Regions from separate parts of the Homo sapiens genome. Here region 2 is linked to region 1. Evidence: fine-mapped expression QTL. Tissue or cell type: tibial nerve. Region 1 holds a variant in brackets; the other region holds the start of a gene. All regions are shown on one strand. Distances are from middle to middle. Region 1 overlaps HOMER2 (homer scaffold protein 2). Region 2 holds the start of HOMER2 (homer scaffold protein 2).

What was found. PIP is the estimated chance that this variant, and not a neighbour inherited with it, causes the effect. A credible set is the group of variants that fine-mapping cannot tell apart.
Region 2: HOMER2 starts here. The variant in region 1 is the best candidate, but not a certain one, in a credible set for the expression of HOMER2 in tibial nerve (GTEx, PIP 0.90).

Annotation. Positions count from the first base shown.
Region 1 is chr15:82,916,877-82,922,248 of GRCh38, reverse strand. The region is part of intron 1 of HOMER2 (homer scaffold protein 2); the gene reads left to right. LOC105370928 (a long non-coding RNA gene) reads right to left here. Exons shown (of 5, transcript XR_007064741.1): 3 at 4,883-4,934; 4 at 2,832-2,946. Among named protein-coding and RNA genes, the nearest start is that of HOMER2, 33 kb to the left of the region's middle. The variant C/T (reference allele first, on the strand shown) is at 2,298.
Region 2 is chr15:82,950,523-82,955,894 of GRCh38, reverse strand. HOMER2 (homer scaffold protein 2) reads left to right here and starts at 3,175. Exons shown (of 9, transcript NM_004839.4): 1 at 3,175-3,364. The coding sequence starts at 3,360. RefSeq lists an enhancer at 3,425-3,925.

The DNA of each region.
Region 1 (5,372 bases):
GTTTGCCAGTTCCTTAAAGTGTCCTGGCAGATCTGTGTCAGGGGCAGTGGTGCTCATACAAGGAAGGTCTTTCAGTGTTGGAGGTGGGGTGGGTGTGACAAGCTGGGATGTAAATCTGAATGTGCCAAGCCCACCTCCAACCTCCCACCAATAGGAGCCCTTGGACAAGGAGCTTAGAATAGAATATCTGTTATCTTTTAAGCATATGCAAGTTATAACTGAAAAATGAATGAGATTAACTTAATGTTCAAGATGGAGGATTCAGCACTTGTGCTTATTTATACCTTCTCTCCCCAGAACCCATTAAAATGATAATAAGGAGATTATGAAAAGTATAATCCCAGGACAGCAAAATGAATGGGAGGGAATTATCAGTAGTTGAGAGATTACAATAAATTTCTGGACCATAGAAAGCTAGTAGAGGAAAGGCAATGTCAGAAATATAGCACAGAGGAGACCAGAGCCCAGAGTCTGAGTGGAGGGGCCACAGGGAGTTGGGGTAGCTGACCAGTCTGCCCTGCACAACCCCAGAGACCCTCTGAACTGAGTCTGCAGGTCCAGCAAGGGCAGGAGTGAGAAGTGGTGCTGAAGCTGGGGCTTTAATTGGAGGTCTCAGGTGATACTAGGTGATACTCCTGCCACAGGGACACTGTGCATATCAGCGGGATGGGGGACGAGTGGACTCCACTGGCAGAGCCAAGACTGGGAGTGTGGATGTTGGCATTCTAGAATAAAGTCTTCCTTGGTCTGGCGTGCATCCAGGGTAGGCGGATGGTATTTGGAAGCATGGTATCAGCTCAGATCAGCGTGGGGAAAGGGGGAAAGTGTGACGTGCTCCAGCACCAAGGAGTCCGGAAGGGGAGGAGGAGCCAGCAGAAGCAGCTTCTCATCAGATAAGATGACAGGAGAAGAGTGGAGCAAGGCCTGCACAGTGGCACATGAGGGAAAACCTGTTTTTTTTGAGATGGAGTCTCACTCTGTCCTCCAGGCTGGAGTGCAGTGGTGCGATCTTGGCTCACTGCAACCTCCGCCTCCCGGGTTCAAGTGATTTTCGTGCCTCAGCTAGCTGGGATTACAGGTGTGTGCCACCACACCTGGTTAATTTTTTGTATTTTTTGTAGAGATGGGGTTTCCCCATGTTGGCCAGCCTGGTCTTGAACTCCTGACCTCAGGTGATCTGCCCACCTTGGCCTCCCAAAGTGCTGGGATTACAAGTGTGAGCCACCATGCCCGTCTGAAAATCATTTTTTTTAAGCCATTTAAAACAATTGTTTTAAGCTGAGTGCTGTGGTAGTCGCAGCTCCTAGGGAGGCTGAAGTAAGAGGATTGCTTGAGCCCAAGAATTTGAATCTAGCCTGGGCAACATAGTAAGACTTTGTGTCTTAAAAAAAAAAAAAAAAAAGATTGTTTTACCCCCAGAGTGGTAGGCTAAAAAATGTCTCCCATAGATATATCAGATGCTCATTTCTGAACCTACGTTACCGTATATGTTAAAGGGTCTTTGCAGATATGATAAGTTAAGGACTTTGAGATGGGGAGGTTATCCTGCATTATCCAGGGCCCAGTGTAATCACAAGTGTTCTGAAGAGAGTAGCAGAGGGAGATTTTACTACACACAGAATAGAGAAGAGGATGTGAGGATCTCTGCAGAGAGCTTTGAAGATGCTTTGCTGCAGGCTTTGAAGATGGAGGAGGAGGCCATGAGCCAAGGAACGCAGCTCTAGAAGCTGGGAAAGGTGGGGCAATGGATGCTTCCTTAGAGCTTCCAACCCTAGAGCCTCTGGAGGCAGCATGGCCCTGGCGACACCTTGGTTTCAGCCCAGTCAACTGACTGCGGATTTCTGCCCTCCAGAGCTGTGAGAAAATAAATTCCTGTCATGTAAGCCCCCAAGTTTGTGGGAATTTGGTACAGCAGCCCTAGGATACATCCAGCCAAAACCAATCAAGTATAAGGGGGAAAGTAAAGGCCATTCCTGATGTGCAAGGACTTAAAGTTGACCTCCCGCTCATCTTGAGGATCTACAACAGCAAAACAATGGCGAAGACTATGAAGGAGGTCATGATGTGGGGAAGTGGGCAAAAAGAATTGATGGCTCCTGGGAGTCTGGTGAAAAGAACTTCTGGACAGATGGCTATGAATGGGCCTCAGAAGCATTCACTCCAAATTACAGGTGGAAGTTACTGGCTCCAAGAATAATATCTTGAGGACAGAGACTGGAGCAGATTCCAGACAATGGACAGAGTGAACAAGCTGGAATATACTAGGGTTATGGGAAGACGGGCTGTGTTTCTTTCCT[C/T]GATAGAGAAGGCAATAGGAAAACATCACAAAAATTAAAAATTATCACAAGCATGTCATGTTTCAAATATGAAGTGCACGAAAGATACCGCCTGCTTTTGAACAACTGGGAGAGTGCTAGAAAGGAGAAGCTTCTCTCTGACCTTGATACTAGGAATGTTTTCCTGTGAGTAGCACTCTGCTGTTGACATTGGAACTGTACAGAAAGAACTATAATCCTGGCACATTTTTTGCCTCTGCAGGGAACAATATTTATATAGTCATAAGAATGTTCTTTTTTAAAAGGGTTACATAGTACTCTATTGTGTTAATTTATTGACTTGATTCTTCCTGGTACTGGACGTTCCAATTAATTTCTGGTTGACCTTTTTGTAAATAATGCTCAAACCTGAGGTCAGTTTGATCTGTGAAGCCTCTTTGTTGGGAGAGTTGGATAATTGGATTATTATACTAGTAATGTATGATTATGTATGAGAAGGGACTCCACATGCAACAATGATGACTGAATTCTGCAGGGAGGTGGTTGATGGCTTACCTAATGACTCTCCCTCACTGGGCTGAGCTGTTTGTGCTGGGCGTCTGGCCAACAGGCCAACCTGTCCTTGATCCTGTATGGACGAGCAACCCGTTGTGACTTCCCTGAGTAAGGCCTGAAGGCAGAGAGAGGTGTTGGGTAGAGCAGGCATGTTAACTTACATGTCTGGTATAAATGGGAGAGACCTGAGCTTGTTTTTGCCAACAGAAGAGATCCAGAAGCACAGAGGGGCTATTGGTGTAATCTAGGTCAGTGTTTCCCAATCTTTTTAGTGTCACGGACACATGGAAAATATGTTTACAGCACCTAGGCAAATGGACAAAACAGTGCCCAGCCCTGGGACTCCTGTGGCCCAGGCCCTGCTCTGCACCCTGAGGGTTGAGATCCCCTTCTCAGCAGGCTACTTCTTCCCAGGACAAGTGACATCTTTGTACAAATTAGAAAAAAACGCTTCTTTAAGACACCTTCTGGAAATCTGTGATCTGCCAGGCAGTTGATGTAATGAGTCTGCGTGTCTTTCATGATTGACACTCAGAGTTGTGCCCTGCACAGCCATTTACGGGGCCGAGTTCAACACACCTGTGGCCCATTGGAGGACACTACTAGGTAGGAGGCTGACAGCCTGGGCTGCTGAGGAGAGGACAGCGAGGGAGATGTTCCTGCTGTGTGCTGGGTGTGAGATTCCCAGGTTTCTGCCATAGTGACAGATCCAGTGGTGTGAGTCACTGAAATAGGGGTGCAGGGAGAACAGCAGCAGGGAGGTAAGGTGCAAGCATGGGGTTCAGGAGAGACACCTGGGCTGGAGGTACACATTCAGGTGTCATCACATAGACATGTCCTCAAAGCTGTGGAGGTGAGTGTGGAGGGGAAACCCCATGGAGAAGAACTAAGGGAATGAGCCCCCACCAGACCACCCAGCCTCACCTGCTGAGGTGGGGCCTGATACTCAAGTAGGACACGGAAATGAGGCCCTGGTAGGAGAGAAATCTGAGCACTGTGGTATCCTGTCCCGTGGGCACTGTCCCAACATGATCACACTGTCCTGAGAATAGCATCTGCCTGCTCTAGAGGATCCCTGGCAAAGACCTCTGGCTGTGACACCTGAACCCCAGAGCACCGTGGCCTGAGTATCTGTACCCTCAGGTGCTGGAGTTTCTGCACCCAGTACTCATCCTGAGTCACTGCCAGTGAGTGCTGTCCGGGAGGGATGGCGTCTATATATCTCTGTGTCCCTAGGGTCAAGCGTTAGATTTTTGAAGGATTCTTATGAGAGTAGACACTGGGACTTTGATGAGTGTGTAATGCGGCTCGGGCAATGCTGCCTGCTTTTAGTCCCTAGTTAGCTCTGGGCCATTTGCTGCCCAGGTGTTCTCCATGATCCTGCTCCGAGCTGCTCCTCGGAGTAGATGGTCCAGCTGAGGAGCAGGCTGACCCAGTCCTGCAGGGCTCTAGTCTCAGCAGCAGTCTCGCCCCTAAACTATAAGGATTTGGGGCCCCCACACCTGTCTTAGACCAGATGAGGTTGATTTCACTTTTGCCCTTGACATTGTGGGAAATAATAGAGATGAGTTTTGCCTTGCTGGGCACATGTGATATAATTTTAAAGCCAAATAATCTAGTTTAGCAAGTATTTTGGGCCTACTGTGTGCATAGGCCTGCAGCATATGAAAGGCTGGTGGGAGGCACACTGTTTCCAAGTGTTTACAGCAAGCTCACCATGGCTGTAGAACAATGGGTTTATTCTTCTTAACTAGTTTTCCTTCCTTGAAGACTTCCCTTAAATGCCTCAATCTCATAATATTCTAAACACGTAACTTCTCCCTCTCACATACACTGGGGTTTGCTGCTGTCCCCACGGGGGCGGATCTTCCCCGCTTGCACCTTCCTGCATGTGTCTTTGGTATCATGTGCCATGTCCTTGGGTGCGAAGGAAAGGGCTGTTCCAGCAGTTCCCCCTGGGGCCCTGGGAGAGGAGGGACAGGTGCCTGTGCTATTTCCCCAAGATAAAGGGCAGCTGTTCTGCTCTCAGCCTGCTCTAGCTGGTAACATACCTTCACTTGTGGCTGGGATCCTATCAATTCTTGAGGCCACCTTGGTGATATCCTGCAGATTAGAAAACCGTTTGGCGGTTATATGTGACTTCTTAGAGCAATGAAGAAATGAGGAAATAAATTACTTTTTCATAAATTCTGCCTAGAAGGGCAAACTCTTTCAATAATGGGATTTATAGGGAAAATGCAAATCAGAAATGGGTACTTCTTGTTCAGTGGGTTAACTGTGAGTTAGAAAAAAACAAAAATTGTAAAATGAGGGCTCTGGGCCGGGCACGGTGGCTCACACCTGTAATCCCAGCACTTTGAGAGGCCGAGGCAGGCGAATCACAAGGTCAAGAGATCGAGGCCATCCTGGCCAACATGGTGAAACCCCGTCTCTACTAAAAATACAAAAATTAGCTGGACATTGTGGCGTGCGCCTGTAATCCCAGCTACTCGGGAGGTTGAGGCAGGATAATCACTTGAACCCAGGGGGTGGAGGTTGCAG
Region 2 (5,372 bases), 34 kb before region 1:
TAGGTCTCCTATTCACACAGATCGTAGCTTATATATTTGTGTGATTATTTGATTAATACCATTCACACAATCTTATAGTCCTATGACAGAAGGACGTCTGTTTTGCTGAGCACTTTATGCCCAACACAGTACCAGATACACAGCAGGTGATCAACATTTATTGAAAGAATAAATATATTTCTATGTTACTATATAGGCTTCACAAATATAATGTAATAGCTGCATAATACCCGACAGTTATCCCTTTAATTAATGGCTTTAATAATACATTTGTTTCATATGCAGTTGAAAGAACTGACCTTTTATGGTTAGAAAAAAAAATGTTTGAAGTCCCTGGACCAGCCATACCAGAAATCTGAGCACACTAATAACAACATTATGCATGTACATGGTGAGCCTAATTTTGCTGTTGAAAGTAAAAATACAGGCCGGGCATGGTGGCTCACGCCTATAATCCCAGCACTTTGGGAGGCCGAGGCAGGCGGATCACAAGGTCTGGAGATCGAGACCATCCTAGCTAACATGGTGAAACCCCATCTCTACTAAAACTACAAAAAAGTAGCCAGGTGTGGTGGCATGCGCTTGTAGCCCCAGCTACTCGGGAGGCTGAGGCAGGAGAATTGCATGAACCCAGGAGGCAGAAGTTGCAGTGAGCCAAGATTGCGCCACTGCACTCCAGCCTGGGCAACAGAGTGAGACTCCGTCTCAAAAAAAAAAAAAAAAGAAAAAGAAAAAGAAAGTAAAAATACGTAGATTATAGGTTTTGAAATCAATTTAGTAGGTTATGAGCAGTACTGCTTTTAAAAATAGAACAGAATGGGCCGGGCACGGTGGCACACGCCTGTAATCCCAGCACTTTGGGAGGCTGAGGTGGGCCGATCACGAGGTCAAGAGATGGAGACCATCCTGGCCAACATGGTGAAATCCTGTCTCTACTAAAAATACAAAAATTAGCTGGGGTGGTGGTGCGCGCCTGTAGTCCCAGCTACTTGGGAGGCTGAGGCAGGAGAATCGCTTGAACCTGGGAGGCGGAGGTTGTGGTGCCCTGAGATCATGCCACTGCACTCCAGCCTGGTGACAGAGCAACACTCTGTCTCAACAACAACAACAACAAAACAGAATGATGTCTGAATGCCTGCCTGGCAAGTGAGAGGATAAACATTGTTTTATATAACTTTTTGTTTCTATTTTATATCGATATACCTATAGACATAGTATGTATGTGCTGAAGTATGTACCAGGTTGCAGGTTGTAGTGTAAAATATATTTCTTACTGTGGATTGTAGTTTAAAAAAATGAAAAACTCGGCCAGGCACGGTGGCTCATGCCTGTAGTCCCAGCCCTTTGGGAGGCCGAGGCGGGTGGATCACGAGGTCAGGAGATCGAAACATGGTGAAACCCTGTCTCTACTAAAAATACAAAAAAAAAAAAAAACTGGGCGTGGTGGCATGCGCCTGCAGTCGCAGCTACTGGGGAGGCTGAGGCAGTAGAATCGCTTGAATCTGGGAGGTGGGGGTTGCAGTGAGCCGAGATCACGCCACTGCCACTGCACTCTAGCCTGGGTGAGCAGAGTGAGACTCCGTCTCAAAAAAAAAATAATAAAAATAAAATAAAAATGAAAAACTCTGATTTCAGTGGCTTGCCTTTGAAGTTATTCGAACACTTCAGAATCCTCAGGTATTACCTGATAAATGACTTGTTCAGTGTTCTACAAGCTCACTTTCCTGATATTGCTGATTACTATGCATGGAGGATTTGGAAACTCCCAAGATTATTTTATTTTTTACAAACTTATTTTGTATTTATTTATTTATTTTTTTGAGACAGTCTGGCTCTTTTCACCAGGCTAGAGTGCAGTGGCATGATCTCGGCTCGCTGCAACCCCTGCCTCCTGGGTTCAAGCGATTCTCCTGCATCAAGCCTCCCGAGTAGCTGGGAGTAGCTGGGACTACAGGAGCACGCCACCACACCCGGCTATTTATGTATTTAATTAATTAATTTATTTATTTTTTGAGACGGAGTCTCGCTCTGTTGCCCAGGCTGGAGTGCAGTGGTGCGATCTCGGCTCACTACAAGATCCGCCTTCCAGGTTCACGCGATTCTTGTGCGTCAGCCTCCGGAGTAGCTGGGACTACAGGCGCCTGTCTCCACGCCCGGCTAATTTTTTTTGTGTGTGTGTATTTTTAGTAGAGACGGGGTTTCACCGTGTTAGCCAGGATGGCCTCGATCTCCAGACCTCGTGATTCGCCCGCCTCGGCCTCCCAAAGTGCTGGGATTACAGGCGTGAGCCACCGCGCCCGACCTGTCCCTTGACTTTTTTACTGTCCTGAGATGCCAGGCTTATGTGGGCGGTGTGTTCCCAGCAGAAGATGATCCCGTGGAAGTCCCGGGGGATGAAGGTTAGGTTAGTCCCAGTGCCAGCCTTTGGTAGAAACTCAGGACCTGATAGGTAGAAAGGCGACGAAGAGAGCCTGCTCTTCTTCAAGTTCTACTTTTGCCATCCTAATTCCCCTCGCTCTAAGGATAAAACCAAGCTTGATGAAGCCGCCTTAAAACTGCCCCTTCAAGTGGGAGCCCTCATCTCATTTTTATCCAGGAAAGAGCCCAGAGCATCTGCCGCGGCCTGTAGGCTCTTCTCTGCCAGGCTGGCTTCCGAAATTTCACGGTGGCGGGTACCTTAAGGCCACTCGGCCGGGCAACTGGCAGGAAGATGAAGGTGGGCTTTAAGGAGGAGCACAGCTATGCCCATCTCAGACTCTGGAGACCCGAACGAACTCTAATCTGAATGTGTGACCTTGGGCAAATCACTTACCCTCCCCAGGCCTCGGTTCCCTTATCTGCAAAGTAAAGGTAGCCCTAAAGTCCCCGCCAGGTGTGAATGGGACTTTAAGTCCATCAGGCAGGATGTTGATGGCACTGCGCCAGGGCCCCGGGTCGGCGTGGGGCGGGGGCGCGCCAACGCGGGGCCGGCACCGAGGACTGGGTGGCCCGGGAGAAAAGCGGCGACTGCGCGGCTGCGCGGGGGACGGTGCACACAGTGCTGCGCCCCCCGCCTCTTGGCTCGCTGCCGCGGCCCGGGGGCCACGAGGTTACGTAAGGAGCCGGGCGGGGGTAGCGGCTGGGGAGGGCGGGGCGGGCACCGCCCCAGCGCGGCCGCCCAGCCCCCGCCCGCCCGCGCCTGGCGGCGGTGGCGGCAGTGGCAGCAGTGGCAGCCGCGCAGCCCCGCGGAATGGAGCGGCGCCGGGGCTGAGCCGGGCGCGCACGGGCCGCCGCATGTGCCGCGCGGGGAGCGGCTGCCGAGCGGGCGGAGAGCGAGCGCGAGAGGCCCCGTCGGAGCGGCCGCCGGAGCAGCGCCGGAGATGGGGTGAGTGAGCCCGCGCCGCGCGCTCTCCGCGCGCCCCTCCGGAGGGACTGCGGGGCCGCGGCTGGCGTAACCGGGCTCGGAGCCTCCCGGCGGGCCGGCCCCCGCCTCCCCAAGCCGGAGCGAGCGCACACTCTGCGCCCGGGAGTCTGGGGCCACCTGACCCGCGCCCTCCGCCGGGGCACGCGGACACCCAGCAGGGGCACCCTGGCCTGGGCGCGGAGCCCGTGGCCCTTCCCCTCCCATACAGCCCGGGCACGGGGGCACCTGACGGGGACCGGTGCCCTGGCCGGCCTCCTGCCTCGGCCATTCCGCGGTCTCTTCGCCCCTGGGCGCAGTCAACTCCAGGGCCTGTGTGAGTCTAAGCAGTTTGTCGTTCTCCACGTTTGGATTTATTACAAGCAAAATGGAAATCGAAGTTTTCCTGGAAATAATCAAATAATAATAAACCTCCAGCGTAGGAATAGTGGACTTTGGATCTGCTTTGAGATGCTGAAGATGATGGAAGTCTATAAGGAACCTAGGTGAGGCTTCAGTCTTTGAAACAACTGAGTAGATGCTCAGGAGGGAAGTTGAAATACTCTGTCGAAGTGACTAATGCTTCTGAGTATATAAAGTAATTTAAGCTTTCCCCTCGGCGTCTCTCTGAGCAGTAGGCTCTGTGAGTCTGGGAGCCACTGTGCTAATAGCACAATAACTCCTTACATCTGCTCACTCTATTTGGGCACACGTTGACGGTTTGCCATACGTATTCAGGGGACACTTATGTCCACTTTACAGATGAGGAAACTGAGGCACAAAGTGGTTCGGTGACTTCCCCCAGGCTGTGTAGTTGATGAGCATTTGTGTAGCAGGGGTGGCCTTGCCACTGCCTGACGTGGGCATGGAGGCGGGTAAGTGAACCAGAATTCCTAAATCTCTCTGTTCCCTGCTGCTGAACCCAGCATTCTTCCAACAGCCCTTCGCAGGACTCAAATGCTTCTGCTCCAAGGGTCTAGAGATCTTGCTTTCCTGTTTGGGATGGGTGGGGCCTGGGAAGGCAAGAGTGCAGTGGAAGGAGCAAGATTGTCCTGGTGCCCTGGCTCAGCCCCCCTGGGTCAGTGGCTTTCTTGCACCGTACTCCAGGTTAAGTTTCTGGAGTCATTTTGCCTGGTGAGTCTTAGCCATGGGAGCTGCAGAGTGTGTGAGGGGATCAGAGGCAGGCCAAGAGGAATTTTGAGGAATGGAAGTGTGAGGGCTGTGGGCCAACATGAACTGGACATGACAGAGGTGGGTGACAGAGAGGAGGAGGCGAGATGAGCAGCGAGGGCTGAAGAAGTGTGCTTACATTTAGGAGATTTCACATGAACAGCAACTGTGGGTGATTTTACCCAGAGGCACCCAAGTTGGCAGGCCGTATTTCTGTAACATTTCCAGTGAGTCCTCAGTGGACTGTGAAAAGGCTGATCTTTGAGCAGTGAGAGCCTTTGAGGTTCTCAGATTTCATACTTTAAAAAAATGTACAGGGAAAAAGGAGTTGGCAAATGTAAGGTCTCAGAATGGAAGATAAAAGGGATCCGGTAATTTTAACTCTCTTTCTGGCCCTCCCTCCCCCTGGCCAACACAAAACCAATCCACCGTACTTGTGTGATCAAAAACAAGTACTGAAACTCTGTGGTTGAGATCAAATAGTTCTGTGGAAATGAAAATGTTTACTCACTCATAAAACCTTAAAGAAAATGTCAAAAAATAATTTTTGTTTGTGGAGAAGCAGGGAGGAGACGCTTGGGGATTTTGTTTAAACACAGAATATGTCTTTCATGTAATTTTAACATCATTCGATAAATGTATATATTACTCACTTCTCGTAGATAAAGGCTGGTTTGTAACTCCTACCTACCTCTGCCATTTTTAATAGATCCATGTCTTCTATTATTTATGTGAAAATACAAGCCATGGTCGTAAATTGAGATGCAGCTAAGGGCTGGGGAAGCAATTCAGACAGGAGGGTGGAGGGAGCCGTTTTAACTGA